Linked DNA regions of Homo sapiens: region 1 is linked to region 2. Evidence: fine-mapped expression QTL. A gene starts in region 2. The other region holds a variant in brackets. All regions are shown on one strand. Distances are from middle to middle.

Region 1 (8,580 bases), 370 kb after region 2:
AATGTTGGAAACCCTAAACAAAACTATCAGAGTACCTAGGTACATAAAATGCAAAGCATAAGTTTATTTGTCCTGTAAAAGTATAAAATCATAAAATGATCAGAAATAAAATTACCCTCACTGCAACCTTTTAATTACACTTTGCTTATATATTTATTGTAATTAACCAAATGGCAATCCCTAATCTAAGTAATTATGCAAAAAGTGCTTTGATCAAAATTAGATAGTGGCAAGATCCCATTTGCTTTAAACTGTATCTGTGGTTCATGTGCTTTATCATTTATTAAGCAAATATGTATAATGTTACATCTATTTTTTTCCAGGCCACAAGGATACATCATTCATCCTAATACCACTTCATGTCCTGCCAAATTGGCTCCTTACTGTTTAAACATAACCTTGGTGGGTTAATACAATGGGCCTAGGGCCTCAGGAGAAGTAGAAATGAAAAAAAGGTAACAATGTTTCTTGTGGGGAAAAAAAACACACCAAAAAATATAGAGAGACTATTATAATTTGGAGGGGAGGGGGTCAAAAGATTTAATGACTATTTCCCAAAACTGTAGAAATGATAATCATAATTTTAAATATCTTCCTAAAAATGGAGAGGGGAAAGGTTTGTTCTCAGGAAAGTATTATATGCAGTTTCAGTAATAAAAATTGTAAATAGAATGTAAAGAAGGACATTTCCATCACTGTTGGTTGTTTACAGTATCACTTCATCTCACCTTGGCTCTGTTTAGCTTTTACTTTCCACATTTCAGAAGATTTTAACATTTTATTCATCAGTCTCAATGACAGAAGTCTCAGTTAATTAAAAATGCATAGCAAATCCCATCTATTCAAACATTCAAAAAACTTAATCTGATATTGCAGTTTCATCATAAGATATTTGGTCTTTGCCCCTGGTTCCTGGCACAGAGCTCCTAAAACCCCTGGAATTTCCTGAGTGATGAGTGACAGGAGCCTCTCTGTGAGGCTTCTAATGAGATGACTCTTGGCCAAGCCCCTATATGGCTTCAGGATGGGGGCTGTTTGCTAGAAAGACCAAGCCTTGATTAGAAGCTTGGAACATTGAGCTCCACCCTGCCACCTGCAGAGAGAGGAGAGAGGCTGGAGATTGAGTTAATCACCAGTGGCAAAGGATTTAACCAGCCATGCTTGTGTCTTGGTCCTTTTTGTGTTGCTGTTATAGAATACCACAGACTGGATAATTTATAAAGAAAATAAAATGTATTTCTTACAGTCTAGAGGCTGGGAAGTCCAAGATTGAGGGGCTCACATCTGGTGAGGGCCTTTATGCTCCTTCATCCCATGTGGGAAGGCAGAAGGGCAAGACAGCAAGAGCGCAAGAAGGGGCCAAACTTGCTTTTACAGCAACCCACTCTCTCAATAACCAGCCCACTCTCTCAATAACCAACCCATTCCATTCGTCCCCCAGTTTATTTATGATTAAACACATTAATCCATTCATGGGAGCAGAGCCCTCAAGCCCTAATCACTTCTTATTAGGTCCCACCTCCCAACACTACTGCATTGGGTATTAAATTTCCAACACATGTTGGGGAACGCACTCAAACCACAGCACCTACGAAAACCTCAAAATAACTGGATGTATTAGTCTGTTCTCATGCTGCTAATAAAGACATACCCTAGACTGGGTAATTTATAAAGGAAACATGCTTAATTGACTCACAGTTCCACATGGCTGCAGAGGCCTCACAGTCATGGTGGAACACAAAGGAGGAGCAAAGTCACATCTTACATGGCAGCAGGCAAGAGAGCTTGTGCAGGGGAACTCCCATTTATAAAACCATCAGATCTCATGACTTATTCACTACCACGACAACAGTATGGGGGAACCACCCCCATGATTCAGTTACCTCCATCTGGCCCAGCCCTTGACATGTGGGGATTACTACAATTCAAGGTGAGATTTGGGTGGAGACACAGCCAAACCATATTACTGGATTCAGTGAGCTTCCAGGTTGGTGAACTTATCTACCCATCAGGACTGTGGTATAGCCCAACTCCACTGGGGCCAGAGGCTTCTGCACTTGGGACACTTCCAGACTTCCCCAAGTACCTCTTCCACTGGCTGTTCATTCAGACCCTTTATGATCAAACAGTAAACATGAGGAAAGTGTCCTCCTGAGTCCTGTGAGCTATTCTAGCAAATCATTGAGCCTGAAGAGATTTGTGAAGACCCCCAAATCTATAGCTGACAGAAGTGTGGCAACCTGGAAGCGCAATATTTGCAACTAGAGTCTGAAGGGAGGGCAGTCTTGTGGGACCGACCCACTAAACCTGTGGAGGCTGACACTAACTCCAGGTAGTGTTAGAATTGAATTGAATTGCAGGACACTTGGTGTCAAAGAATTAGGTGTCAGGAAACGGGGGAAAAAAAAAACCTCTCAGACATTCTTTATGTTTCATACAAAAATTGTATGTGTCCTAGTAGTGGTTAAGGTTCTGAACAGTCTTGAAGGGCTTTATGAATCACACCAAGATTGCATCATGCTGTGTTTATTTAAGCAAAGAATTATTTATACTCCAGGTATACAGTTTAATACATTTTCTTATATTCTGATTTTGTCTCATTTCTGAACTACTGCAGAAAAATATTGTCTTCGTTTCACATGGCTGCTGTAACAAATTACCACAAACTGGGTGGTTTAAACAACAGAAATCTATGCACTCATAGATCTGGAGGCCAGAAGTACAAAATCAAGGTCTCAGCAGATCCAAACTCCTTCCAGAGGCCTTAGGGAAGCACCCATTCCATGCCTCTCCTGGCTTCTGGTGCAGCAAGCATTCCTTGGCTTGTGGCCCCATCATCTCTGCTCCACCTCCATTTTCACATCACCTTCCCTTCTATGTCCGTCTTCTCATCTTGTGTCTCTCATAAACACCCTTCTCATTGGATTTAGAGCCTACTCAGATAATCTAGTATAATCTCCGCATCTCAAAACCCTTAACTTTATTACATTTGCAAAGATCCTTTATCCAAATAAGGTTGCATTCACTCACTGCAGAAAAGAGAACATGGACATATCTTTTTGGGGGCTACCATTCAACCCACTAGACCTTCTTATCTTTGTCCTTCCCTGTCTCCAAAAAATACTCTCTTTTAAAATACAGAGCAAAATGAGTATCTGGAGGGAAACTAAATGTAATATATGTATCATGCACGACACAAACGGAACTTTATTCCTCGTGAATGATAACACAAGCCAGCTACAAGATACTGCACTGAGTAAATTTTTTTTTTTTTTTTTTTTGGCGGGGGCACGGAGTCTCACTCTGTTGCTCAGGCTGGATTGCAGTGGCACGATCTCGGCTCACTGCAACCTCCGCCTCCCAGGTCGAAGCGATTCTCCTGCCTCAGCGTCCCAAGTAGCTAGGACCACAGGCGCATGCCACCACGCCCGGCTAATTTTTTGTATTTTTAGTAGAGATGGGGTTTCACTGTGTTAGCAAGGATGGTCTTGATCTCCTGACCTTGTGATCCACCCGCCTCTGCCTCCCAAAGTGCTGGGATTACAGGCGTGAGCCACCACGCCCCACCTGCATTGAGTAATTTTAAGTAGATGGACACAATATCTTGGTTCCTACAGACAGATGGTCCTTTGAGAGCTAATCAGCCTGTCGTATACATTAAAAACCATGAATCATACTGTCCAGCATGTCTTCAGTATTATACAGATTCAAACATTTATTGATGTGAGTATTTCCTCCCAAATGCCAAAGTCTATTATGAAGAACATACTTTTATCTTTTAAAAGAAACAAGGGCCAGGCATGGTGGCTCACGCCTGTAATCCCAGCATTTTGGGAGGCTGAGGTGGGTGGATCACGAGGTCAGGAGATCGAGACCATCCTAGCTAGCTAACACAGTGAAACCCCGTCTCTACTAAAAATACAAAAAATTAGCTGAGCGTGGTGGCGGGCGCCTATAGTCCCAGCTACTCGGGAGGCTGAGGCGGGAAAAAGGCATGAACCCGGCAGGCGGAGCTTGCAGTGAGCGGAGATCACGCCACTGCACCTAGCCTGAGTGACAGAGCAAGACTCCGTCTCAAAAAAAAAGAAAGAAAGAAAGAAAGAAAAGGTCATATACATTTTAGTCCATTAATACCTTTTATGACCACCATACTATATAGACTCTAGACTTTATAAAATATACTAGAAATATTCACAGGTAAATGAATTGCTAAGTTACATATTAAGTTACATTCTTCAAACCAAGTGGTGATAATTCACACACACACACACCCG[A/T]AATAAAATTATGTATGTGAAGAATTTGTAAAAAAAAAAAAAAAATACTGAAGATTTAAAAAGCACTCTTCTTTCAGCATAAATTATCAGAAACATAAATGCCTATGGTTCTTATGGGAAATAATAAAAACATGCAAGAATGTCTTACTCCTTATTTGTTTTAGAAAAGAAACAGTCCCTCCGAGAACTATATAAATATAACTGCAGAAAAATAAATAAAATTCTCTTTAATTTTGACAGCTTGCTATGCTCTTCTGACCCACAATAGTTATAAAACTATGTCATAGTCTTGGTTTGGCCAAAAGAAATGGAACAACAGCTCATTACTTCATCCAAAGCAATGCTTATTTTTCAGAGTGCAATAAAAAAATACAGATTCATAAGTGATTTCTTCAAATAATGGAGGAAAAAAATTCAGGTCAATGTGTCCTAGAAATATAAAATTATATATTGACATAAAATTATGTCAATGAAAATGGAAGCTCTTATAGAAAATCTCATTTTTATAGGTCGTCCTTGTTGAGTAGTGCTAGAGTTTGGTTTGTTTGTCCCCTCCAAATCTCATGGGGGTGGGGTCTAATGGGAGGTGTTTGGGCCATAGGGGCAGATCCTTCATGAATGGCTGGTGGTAACAAGTGGGCTCTAACTGTATTAGTTTCCATGAGAGCTGGCTGGTCATTAGCAAGAGCCTGGCACCTCCCTCCCTTCTCTCTACTGCTTCCACTCTTGCCATGTGATCTCTGCACACTATGGCTCCCTTTTACCTTCTACCATGAATGATAGCAGCCTGAAGCCCTCAGCAGAAGCAGATGCTGGTGCCATGCTTCTTGTACAGGCTGCAGAACCACGAGCCAAATACACCTCTATTCTTTATCAATTACCCCGTCTCAGGTATTCCTTTATAGCAACACAAAAATGAACTAAGACAAGCAGCTATACTTTAGGCAAGTAAAAACCAAAAAATGGCCAGGCGCAGTGGCTCACACCTGTAATCCCAGCACTCTGGGAGGCCAAGACGGGTGGATCACCTGAGGTCTGGAATTTGTGACCAGCTTGGCCAACACAGTGAAACCCCATCTCCACTAAAAATACAAAATTAGCTGGGTGCGGTGGTGCATGCCTGTAATCCCAGCTACTCGGGAGGCCGAGGAAGGAAAATCTCTTGAACCTGGGAGGTGGAGGTTGCACTGAGCCGAGATCATGCCACTGCATTCCATCCTGGGTGACAGAGCAAGACTCCATCTCAAAATAAATAAATAAATAAATGAAAGATAAATGCAGCCATATAAGAAGTACAGGCATAAGTTAGTGCACTGACATTTAGCTGATATAATAAAATTTAAGCCATGTCTATATGGAGCTATAAGTGGCTCATGGTAAAACTGCCTTTGCTGAATTATAAATAATGAGAGAAATTTAATATAACTGACTCTATTTTGCTTTGCTTTTAATTTCATAGGTTTTTTTTCTCTTACTCTAACATGGAAGCCAAGATAACTATGAGAGGAATTTAGTTTATAGTTACACTTTGAAGCAAGGAAAACTGACCCCACCCCCCACCATACCCCATCCTTGTTCAAAGATCAAAGCTGCATTCATATGGCAAGGTTAAAATTCTGGTAGGGGCTTAAACTTTACTAAAAAATAGGCATAAACAATGACCCGCTATTGTTTAGCATGCTTTCCTATAAGTTGCTTACTGCACTAGAGTCACGTAACCAGGGGTTACAAGATTTCCAACTTCCCCAAATACTCCTATAGATAACATCAGTATTGTGAAACCTAAAGACCTGGCCTTTGACATAGTTTTCAGATTTCACATTTTGGTAGATCAAGAGATGCCACCTGGTTCTGAGAACCAACCCTTTCCTGGGAACTGACTTTACTGCCCAAAGATGTTTTAGATGCCCCTATGACCTCATCCCCAGCCAATCAATTGTTCCAATTCCCCAGTAACCCCCTGCCTACCAGAGTCCCCTTAAGAAACCCTAGCCTCCGAATTCTCAGAGAGACAGGTTTGAGAAATTTCTCTCTGCTCTCCTCACTTGGCCAGCCCTGAAATGATTAAACTCTTTATTTGCCACAAAAACTGCTGTTCTCATTGGTTTTTGTTTGTTTGTTTGTTTTTTAAGACAGGATCTTGCTCTGTCACCCAGGCTGCTCACTGCAGCCTCACTTGCAACCCTCCTGGGTTCAAGCAATTCTCCCACTTCAGCCTCCCAAGCAGCTGGGATTACAGGTGTGCGCCACCACGCCTGGTTAATTTTTGTATTTTTAGTAGAGATGGGGTTTCGCCATGTCAGCCAGGCTGGTCTCAAACTCCTGACGTCAGGTGATCCACCTGCCTCAGCCTCCCAAAGTGCTGGGATTACAGGTGTGAGCCACCGTGCCCGGCCCGTGCTGGTTTTGTTTGGGGCAGTGGGCAAAAAGAACCTACCAGGCTGTGACAATGGCAGAAATCAATCACTCGCTTTGGATGCCATCAATTCTGGGGAGACACAGCAAGCGAATGATGCACAGAGCTTCTTGGTTCTGTCTCACCAATGATTACTACCTGAGCAGAGGGGTCTCCACACCTCTCTTTATTCATCATCACTTCAAACATGGTACAGTCGAGTATGTTGATCACCTGCCCCTTACTACCTTACTTTTAGAGTGAGTAGCAACCTCCTTCCAGTTACCCAGGCTCTAACAGTTTAATTTTTACCTCTCCCTCTTCCTTCATCCCACATCTGCAGCCTCTCTTTAGCTCAACTGTCTTCCACGTATCTGTGACCTCAACGCTTCTACCCCTCAGGGCCCACAGCCATGATCCAGGCCCTCAGCACTTCTCTGAGCGCAGACAGCAGCTGTGAATGATGCCACTTCTATACGTACACGCCTTCAGTGGCTCACGCCTTCCTTCTACACCAGCTGTGTCTTTCCCTATACTGATAACAAGTAGTATATTGGGTACTTACAATATACGAGTCACTGTTCTAAACACTTTACACACATTAACTCACTGAATCTACAATAGGCTCTCTTATTACACCCCCATTTTATGGTCAAGGAACCTAAGGAACAGACAGCCTCAGCAAATTGCCCAAGGTCATACAAATGATGAATGGCAAATGTAGGATTTGTACTTGGCCTTTTTAGCTGCAGAGCCCACTCTCAACTCTGTGGCCTCAGTGCCTTTCTGTCCTCCTCGTCCCGTATCCTAACCATTCTTTCTTCCCAATACCCTGCAACCAATGTGAACGACTACATCCAATCAGGCTAGACTTCTTACTAACCTGAAATGCGCCAAGCCCATTTCTGTCTCTAGGACTTCCTACAGCACTAAAAATGACCTGCCTTCCATTTTCTGCTATCCAAATCTTACCTATTCTTCAAAGCCAAATAAAGTTCCACTTCCTCCACGCTATTCTTCAAACCCAAATCAAGTTCCACTTCCTCCATGCAGGCTTCCCTGACTTCCTGAGGTTCTATTTTCTTCACTCAATTGCTACATCAGTACAGTGTGCCCACACCAACTTAGGACTTCATTTTGAATCTTTTTTGTTTCCCAAATATACTCATTCATTCAACAAATATATTTCAAGAACCAAAAAATCCATTTAAAATGTGGAAACTGGTCTAGAGGCTGAGGATATGGCTGTAAACAAAATGTATAGGCTTTCATGAGGCCTCCATTTGTGGGAGGGGAAAGGAGACAAGAAATAAACATAGTATCAGCTCTCCAGCAAAAAAGTGTTTCACACAGAGAGAAAACAAGAGTGAGTTCCATTAAAAATGTGGAAACTAGTCTAGAGGCTGAGGATACAGCCGTAAACAAAATGTATAGGCTTTCATGAGGCCTCCATTTGGGGGAGGGGAAAGGAGACAAGAAATAAACATAGTATCAGCTCTCCAGCAAAAAAGTGTTTCCCACAGAGAGAAAACAAGAATGAGTTCAGCATGTTTAAAGAATAGAAAGAAGGATGGTACATACTTGTGGGGAAAGGGGAGTAGTGCAAGATAAAAATGATATCAACAAAATTTTGTATTATTTTTACATTATTTCCCCCACAAATCTTGCACTATTGCTAAACAGAGCTGTATCATTTCAATACTACCAAACCATTTACAGATGTAATTAAGCCTGGACCAATATAGCTACCTCAAAAGAATGCAATTATCTAGCTAATTGAGGACAAGGACATAACTAATCTAAAATATTGGGCCCAAAAGGATTGTATTAACTCCCTGGGATACACTGATAAAATAGGGTAAATAATTATCAAGCTCCTCCCCCTCGGACTATTGTTACATAAACAGCAGA
Region 2 (8,644 bases):
CTATCTGGACAAAATTGAGTATGTATTAGACAAATGTTTCTTAAATTACAATCTCCCCGGACTAGAGGCACATCATTCATCATGAAATGCCTGTTAAAATACAGATTTTTGCACCCAATATAGCTTACAGAATCAACACTCTGAGAGATGAGGCCTGACAATCAACATTTTAAACAAGTTCCCCCAGAGATTCTAATGCCCACTAAAAGTGCCACCCTATTAAACCAGAAGTGAATCTAGATATTACAAAATTAAAACCCCATTTTCTATTCTGCTGCCCTTTTTTAAAAAATTAATAAATATTAAATGTGACGAGGACAAAATTCCTTGTATATCCAGCTTCAAGATTAGGATCCAGGCTGAATGTGGTGGCTGGCACCTGTAATCCCAGCATTTTGGGAGGCCGAGGCGGGCAGATCACCTGAGGTCAGGAGTTTGAGACCAGCCGGGCCAATACGGTGAAACCCCCTCTCTGCTAAAAATACAAAAATTAGCCAGCATGGTGGTGCATGCCTGTAGTCCCAGCGAATTGGGAGGCTGAGGTAGGAGAATCACTCGAACCTAGGTGGTGGAGGTTGCAGTGAGCCAAGATCACGTCACTGCACTCCTACCTGGGCAACAGAGTGAGATTCCATCTCCAAAAAAAAAAAAAAAAAAGACTAGGATCCTAAATAGTCAATAGACAAGGAGTTTCAAGGTTAAAATTCTTTCCACTCTCTTTCACCCATACATAAATAGTCTGTGTTCTTATTTGCCAATGCTAAACAGAGGCCTTCCTATGTGATTATTTATGTTGTCAAGTATATCACATAAAATATAAGACATAAATTACTCTATGTGTGGCTTCTTATCAGCTTTGAGTATACACATTTTCAGCCTCAATGTGAAATCAGAGTTTGCTTCTAAATGGTATCTGGACATACAGAATTTGTAAAGAAATCTATCCTCTTTGTTTAAGAGAAGATATCAATGTAATTTTGCCTCGTGCAGATTCCGTCCTTATTTTTTTTTTTTACTTTAACTACTTTAAAAACCTTTTTTTTTTCCCAGTACAAAAGGTGAATCCATTTCACGAGGAGGAGCTCAGTCAAATTTTATATGAGGGGAGACCAAGTTTGATCTTGCCGAGAGATCCTCGTTCTGTAAACCCCGTAAGTAGGAGTGTGAAGGGAGAAAGCCAGAAACGGGTTTTAATATGGATGTGCAAAAAAGTTCAAGGAAAGACGAAGAGGAAAAGAAAGCAAGCCTTCCATGTTTATCTGCTCCATCTATTTCCTGCCTGTAATTTATGCCATAGGTTAATTCCCGGGAAGTAGGAAAAAGACTCACCTTGTACTACAGTTAAATCTTGTGGAGAATAAGTAAAATTCCAAACATATCCCAAAGTAATGTAAGAGCAGAGGCCTCTTATTTTGCAGAGGAAAGAGGCCTCCTAAAAATGCTGCACACAGATGTTTAAGCATCAGAGAGACATGGACTAGTAGATCCTTGGAGCGAAAAGGTGCAGAGAGAGAAATCGCCCAGTCCAGAGGAAGAACATGAACCCCGGAGTGGAGAGGAGTCCCTCCCAAATTTACAGGGCAAGTCAGCGGCAGAGCTGGTCTAGAAACTGCACCCCTGACTTCTAGCCCCTGCCTGATTCTGTGCGCCCATGTAAGCTCTAAAGGACGCCATTCACTATGTGGTCCCAGTCAAATCTTCTATGTGCTATGTACGATGGTTGACCCAAAAAGAATTGTCTCATCATTGCCCTTCCCCTCCCCTCTGCAAAACAAAACAAAACAAAAAAAAACCTTGTGGCTTTGTCCTTACTAGGCAACAATTTCATCACACTTTGTCATTTAGTAAGTATAAAACAGCCAGCCAACTTCTAAGGACAGAAATACACATCCCCGGTCTAATTCTTGCCTCTAGCCTTTCAAAGCTCAAGGCCTGGCTTTGGGGCAAGAGGGTCCACGTGTATATGTGTGTGTGCACGTGTGTGCATGTGTGTGGGTGTGTGTGGCAGGGGATAGAAAGCCCATCACATGTACCTGGAACACAGCTTTGATCCACATCTTTCTCAGCCCAGTAAAAAACTTGTAGCCACTAAAGCATCTGAGCACTGAAGCATCTTAACCACTAAAGCATGTGGGGCATTGTCATCTGACCCCACTGCCATAGGCCCCTTTTTACAGATGGCTGAATACTTTCTCAATGAGGCCATTGCACTTGCCCTGAGGGGGAGGACCTCTCATCACTCACCTGCTGCCATTCTTTTCCAGGGCCCAGAACAATCCCAGGGGCCTTAACTACAGACTCTAATTGGGCGCATCAGCATCACGAGTAGGACTCAAGTAAGAAAGGGGCATATTTATGTTTCTTATCGTGCGTCTACAGGGAGGGGCTGAAAAGGACTCAAAAGCCTATGAAAACTTGTATTGCAGATGGGGAGGAGGGATGAGGGTAGAAACAAAAAATAATATACAGCACTTTATCCAACCATTTTATAACAAGTTGAAATCAGGCTCCTTCCAGATTGAAATGGATCCTCCAGTCCCATAATTAAATTGGGAAAATGAAGCCATTTCATGCCTTTGGCTCCCTTTGATCATTGTTATTTCTGTGACTAATGTGTAACTGGAGCTGCTTTTTCTGGGGCATGAGCCTCGCCTGGGCAGCTGCTAGGAGAGTGTGGCCTGGTCTCCTGTTGTCAGCGCAAGCTGACGGCAAGGCCAGGGCTCAGCAAGGTCAGGTTAGTCTCAGCCAAAGTGGACTGGAAGAGATGCACCTGCGCTGACAAGCAGCTATCTGTTCCCATTTGCCTCTGACTGCATTTCTCCAGGGCCTCCCTTGTCCTGGAGAACTCTTGGGTGGGAACTGGTGTTTTTTCCCTTGAAAGGAAGAGATAGAGGACATTTCAAGAGATAGGAGCAGAACATTGCCTCTCAAATTGTAAAGAAGGTGACTTCTGAAGCTCATCATTTTAATTTTCCCTCCCCTTTGTCCCTCATCAACTTCTATTCCTGCATCCTCCCTAACCCCTCCATGCGTGCATCACACACACACATACACACACACATACACTCACACTCACACGCTGGGCACAGCAGGCATGCAAGCACAGTTGGGAATTCTGTGAGTCCTTCTAGACTAAGGAAACTCAAACTAAAAAGTAAAATCTATTAATAACAACTCCCTCCTCCCCATTTACTACGGAATTTGCTCTTGCGGATTCTCTAGAGCGCCCTCATGTGACGCCCTGTTGTAATAGCATTCAAGACTTTGGAAGGATATAAGGATCTGTTGAAACACTGTATCACCACAATTCAAAGTATCACTTTTCCGGATGAATAACGCCTAGTATTTGATAGCACAAAACGAGGACTGTAGTCAATAATAATTTAATTGTACATTTTTTTAAATGCCCAAATTATTTAAATTTCAGAAAGAGATGGGCCCTTCAGGGAGAGGAAGGCTCGGCTGTCTTAATCTCTGGGAGCCCTGTAGAAGAATGAGAAGACAAACAGCTGACTTTTTTCTAATTTTTAACAGCTACTTGTGGACCAAGGTGACACTTAGGAATCCCAAGAAGCTCCAGCCATAAAGGGAGTCGGTATCCTTCCTCCAATTGTAAACCCCAGCACTCCCACTGAACACACTGGCCATGCCAAAAGTTCACACATCGGCCACGCAAAGAGCTCAAAGAGATCCATTCAGTACCTGGGAAGGCACGATCACTACGGGGAGAATCAGAAACCACGCGATCGCCAGGTGGCCTTCAAAGAAGCCTCCTCCCAGAAGGTCCAGAATCCCATCCAGAGACATTTCTGTCACTCTTCTCAAGCCACCTCATCATCTCTCTCTGCAGTTGAACTGCTGATGTTTCTGAGATTGTGGGTTTGTTCAAAATGAAGCTTGGCAGAATCATAATTTATAGGCTAATATTTTGTAAGTAGAGACAATTCATGACTTAGAATCTTATGAATAAATTGCTCCTGTTTTATTGCTCTGTGTGTGTGTGTGTGTGGGTGTGGGTGTGGGTGTGGGTGTGTGTGCATATAACTTTTCTTTTTCCACGTTTACCTCTTGAGTGGGCCCATTAAACTGAGAAGTACTGCGTGAGGTCTTGAGATAGCACAAGCCTTCGCCACCCCTGTAAAGGTGTGACGTGTGTCTAGGCAAAACCCTGGCAGGTCTCCAGGCGGTCCTTCTGAGTTAGGGCTCTGAACACTCTCTCTTAAAGCCCTGAGCTATGAACACAGCTTTGAACGGGACAGAGAAAGACCAAGTCAGAGGGGGAGCAGCTGTGTCTTTCTCCTCTCTGCTTCATTATAGACAAAATTGACCTCTGGGCCAAGTCTCATTAACTAATTGAAGAGTTCATAGTCACACAGTGTTTCTCAAAACGAGATTCAGAGAACACGAGCATCAGAAACACCTGAAGTGTTTGTTGGAATTGCAGCTACCTGGGCCCCATTTGGTGCCTGTTGAATCAGAATCTGTGGTATAAGAACCTAAGATCTGCATTTCCAATACACTTATAAGTTGAGTGTCAAGCACAGTAAAGTTTGGGCAGCCCGTCCCTTAATCTTTTCACATCCCGTCAGATTACAGATTTATATTTTAACAAAAGCCTTTATTTCCATAAGCCAACAGGGGAACTTCAGATACTGCTGTGGGGCAGCAGGGGAGATGTTGTTAAGCAAAGGGAGAAGGGCTTCCAGCGCCTCTTGATTTTTTCTGCAGAGGTAGCTGCACATGCAGCTGGTCAGAGTTTACCTTCTATGTCCTACCCCTGTGAATGCACCCCAGAGCTGGAGCACGCATTGAGGTCAGGGGGGCGCCTACCTGGAAGGACCTACCTGGAAACTGGATATCCAGTGAGGAGAGGAGAAGGGGCTGTCAGAAAATCAGCTCACCTCTAGACGGCGGCAACTCAGATAAGAGGAGCTTGTACTTCCGGTCTCTCCTCCCTCATCCCTTTCTGGTTGGGAAATTTTGTTCAAGCTACCGCTGTATGCTTCTGTTTTCTCTGAAGAAAATGGAGACTAATATTTATGCCTGCCTCAATAAATACATTTTTATTATAATTAATTTTGAAAGGTCCTGAGATTGGTAGGAAGATCACGTCCTCAGAGGCAGGTGTTGTGAACAGTGGATATGAAGTTGCATGGAAAATCTTCCACATGCTCAGTCCATCCCCAAGGGAAAAGGAATGTCTGGTGGGAAGTGAAGAGCTCTGAGCCCCTGCCTTCTCTGCTGCAGCACCCACCATCTTCCTCTTCTATTCCAGCCATGCGAGGCTTTTTTCTATTCCTTGAACCCAACAAACATTGCTCGTCTTCAGCCAGGATTGGGAAGCACTGCTCAATCCACTGCTGTATATAAATCTAGCTCACGGGTTGGGACTTTTCAGGCAGGGAAAGGCTCATTAGGAAACTGAGGCTGATTTTGGATGTTTCCAGGTCAGGAAGGTTGTATGTGTAGGTTTTCTTCTGCATTGGGCACAGAACATTGGATGGTCATTCTCATTCCCATCTTTGGCAAGGGCTGGGATGAAGTATGTGCTGGTGGTTCCTGAGCTGCCTAGCAGAGACGTGGGCTTGGGGAGGAGGACATTTTCTTTCCAGCAGGTGCTCGAGAGGACTCAAAGAGGTGATGAATGGAGCAAACAGAGCCTGGACTCCATCCAGGTAGACAGGGCTTATACCCAAATCTGTCACTTACTAGTTGTATGATCTTGGTTAAGCCTTAGTTTCCTCCTCTATAAAATGACTCTAAATAGTAACACCTACCTCAGAGTTGTTATGAAGATTAACAGACATAAGGTGTGTAAACCAATTACACTGTGTCTAGTACACATGACTGCCCTGTTCATACTAACTATGGTGATTTGATGTTTGGGAGCCACGCTTTTTAGTCTTTAAGGTCTGTGTAATCTCGCTGTCTTGTTTTATTTTATATTTCCCCATTTATTCTCTATTCTCGCTCCTGTTTCCTCCCATTTCCCTCTCCTGTCTTCCTTCCTGGGATTTCTTATATGTCCTTAGATTATCTCCAAAAAACACAGAACTTGGTTTTGTGTGTATATTAAAGTTTAATATCCTTAAGTAGTAACGTGCTATAAATCGTTTACCACCTTTTGCACTCAACACTAAGATTTTTAGAGGTATCCATATTATGGTTTGCCAGTGGTTCTCAACTTCACTATGAAACAGAATCACTTGGGAGCTTTTGAAAAATTTCAATACCTGGACCTCCATTCCAGTTATTCTGATTTAATTTGTCTAGGGTGCGGGCCAAGCCTCAGGTCATTCTAAAGTGCAGCCAGGATTGAGAAGCACTGCTCAATCCACTGCTGTATATAAATCTAGCTCACAGGTTGGGACTTCTCAGGCAGGGAAAAGCCCGGGGTTCACCTTTTTCTGCCTCACCAAGTCTCTGCAGTAAAATCAGGTGATGACGACCCTAAGGACAGCGTTAAAAGGAAAAAGAAGAGAGGAGAAGGCAACTTGCAGCCTAAGGCATATGTAAGAAAGAGCAGAAATCAGAACTCCTACTCTGCCCTATTTGTCAGAGTCATGTTATTGATTCATCTGTTCGTCCATTTAATCACCCAGGATTTACTGAGCTCCTCAGACATTCTGCTAGGTGCAGGGAATACAGCAGTGAACAGGGTAGACAGTCTCAACACTCAGTGGCTTTCATACCTGTTAAAATAAAGCTTCTCAGGCCTCATGTCGAGAGCTTCTGACCCAGTAGGTACAGGGCTTGGCTCAGGAGTCTACATCTTGAAAAAGTGCAGCAGGTGATACCAATGCCTATGATCCTGGGAATCTTTTGTAGAAAATTGGTCTAGCCAATTTATGAGTCAGGTTGTTTTTAAGCATGCTTGATAAATTTAGCCCATTTCTCCCTTTTAGAATTTTTTTTGAAACAGCAGAACCCCTATTTACTATGTGTCTTCAGCAGCAACTACAGCCTTAGAACTCTCTTCCTCTGACTAGACATTCCTATACATGATACCACCAACAATTAATTCATTGTTGCTGGTGCACCCACATTATACAGTTGCTATAGAGTCATGGTCACATTTAAGCCCTACCAAAACTCTGCGAGGTAGGTCTCATCCTTCATATGAGAAAACTGAGGCTCATGTTGGTTAAGTGATTTTCCCAAGATTATACCTCCAGGAATTAACCACATGTCCCTCTGCTTCAAGACCTGGGCTTCTCGCCACCATATTGCATGAGGCTCCCTAGAAGGCCAGGACAGTCTTCACTCATCCTGTTATCTCTTGGAATACCCAACTACACTAACAGATGGCTATTCCAATCACAATCACTGAACCAGTTATTAGCTGGATGCTACATTCTTTCCATACACAAAGTATACAGAGGAATCCCTCTCATCTGGAGTTAACTGGCACTAGTAGCTGGTTGGCTCATTGGAAAAACGTAGCTCAATCTGGGAATCATTAAAAGGTGATGTATGTATACAGTAAGTATTTTATTTTAACCTGAAATATATAAATGTATATTCATGAGCCAGACCTCTAATGTGGAGCCAAAGGGTTTTTTAATTTTTTTCCACTTTAAGTTCTCTGATTGGAGTTTCAGTACTCTTTCTAACATAACCTATACCGATAATATATATTCTAGAACTTCTAATGTTTATTTTCTTAAAGTAGAGTAAAACATATTTGTACCTTCTAAATAAGCTAAGTACAAAATCCTATTAAAATACATAATTCAGGAATATATTAAAATTTTAAATATACAGATAAGTTGATAAAATGGCAAAATAAACACCAAATACCCACTGCCTAAATTAAACAACTGTTAACATTTTGTCGTATTTACCTTATTTCTCATGCTATTTTTAGAGCTGCATCTACATCCATTCATCTATCATCCATCTATACATTGTTTTTTTGCTAAATATTTGAAAATAAGTTGCAGATATCATGACACTTCACCCATAAATATGTCAGCAGGTACCTCCTGAGTATAAGAACACGCCTCTATATCATTTTCACACCCTGAAAAATAATGGTAACTTTAAAATAACATCTGATATTGAGCATTCAAATTTCCCCAACCGTCACAAGACTGTCTTTTAGAGGTGATTTTTTTCTCAATCAAGATTCAGTCTTGGTTCATGCATTGCATTTGATGTTATATTTTTTTGGCCCGCCATTTTTTTTTTTGACAGTGACTTTTGGAAGAGTTCAGACCATTTTGTAATATTCTGGATTGAACTGTTTTCTCATGGTACATGTTTCTCTTTACCCTGTGATATAGTTTGGATATCTGTCCCTTCAAAATCTCATGTCAACATTTGATCCCCAACACTGGAGGTGGAACCTAGTAAGAGGTGTTTGTGTCATGGAGGTGGATCCCTTATGTATAACTTGGTGCTGTCATTGCAGTAATGAGTGAGTTCTCACTATATTAGTTCTCATGAGATCTGATTGTTAAAAAGAGTCTGTCACCTCTTCCCTCTTCTAATCTTGGCAGAAGGTGCAGAGGGAGCTTGTCACATGGCTCCCTCTCTTGTTATGTGACATGCCTGCTCCCTCTGCACCTTCTGCCATGACTAGAAGATTCCTGAAGCCCTCACCAGAATCAGTTGCTGGCACCATGCTTCTTATATAGCCTGC

What was found. PIP is the estimated chance that this variant, and not a neighbour inherited with it, causes the effect.
Region 1: its variant is fine-mapped to the expression of CASC18 in tibial artery (GTEx, PIP above 0.99).

What each region holds. Positions count from the first base shown.
Region 1 is chr12:105,335,132-105,343,711 of GRCh38, reverse strand. The region is part of intron 1 of C12orf75 (chromosome 12 open reading frame 75); the gene reads right to left. Among named protein-coding and RNA genes, the nearest start is that of C12orf75, 8.7 kb to the right of the region's middle. The variant A/T (reference allele first, on the strand shown) is at 4,275.
Region 2 is chr12:105,700,457-105,709,100 of GRCh38, reverse strand. It overlaps CASC18 (cancer susceptibility 18), which reads right to left and starts at 4,898. Exons shown (of 5, transcript NR_110109.1): 1 at 4,845-4,898. It overlaps LOC105369959 (a long non-coding RNA gene), which reads left to right and starts at 1,074. Exons shown (of 3, transcript XR_945309.3): 1 at 1,074-1,151; 2 at 2,265-2,336; 3 at 3,535-3,985.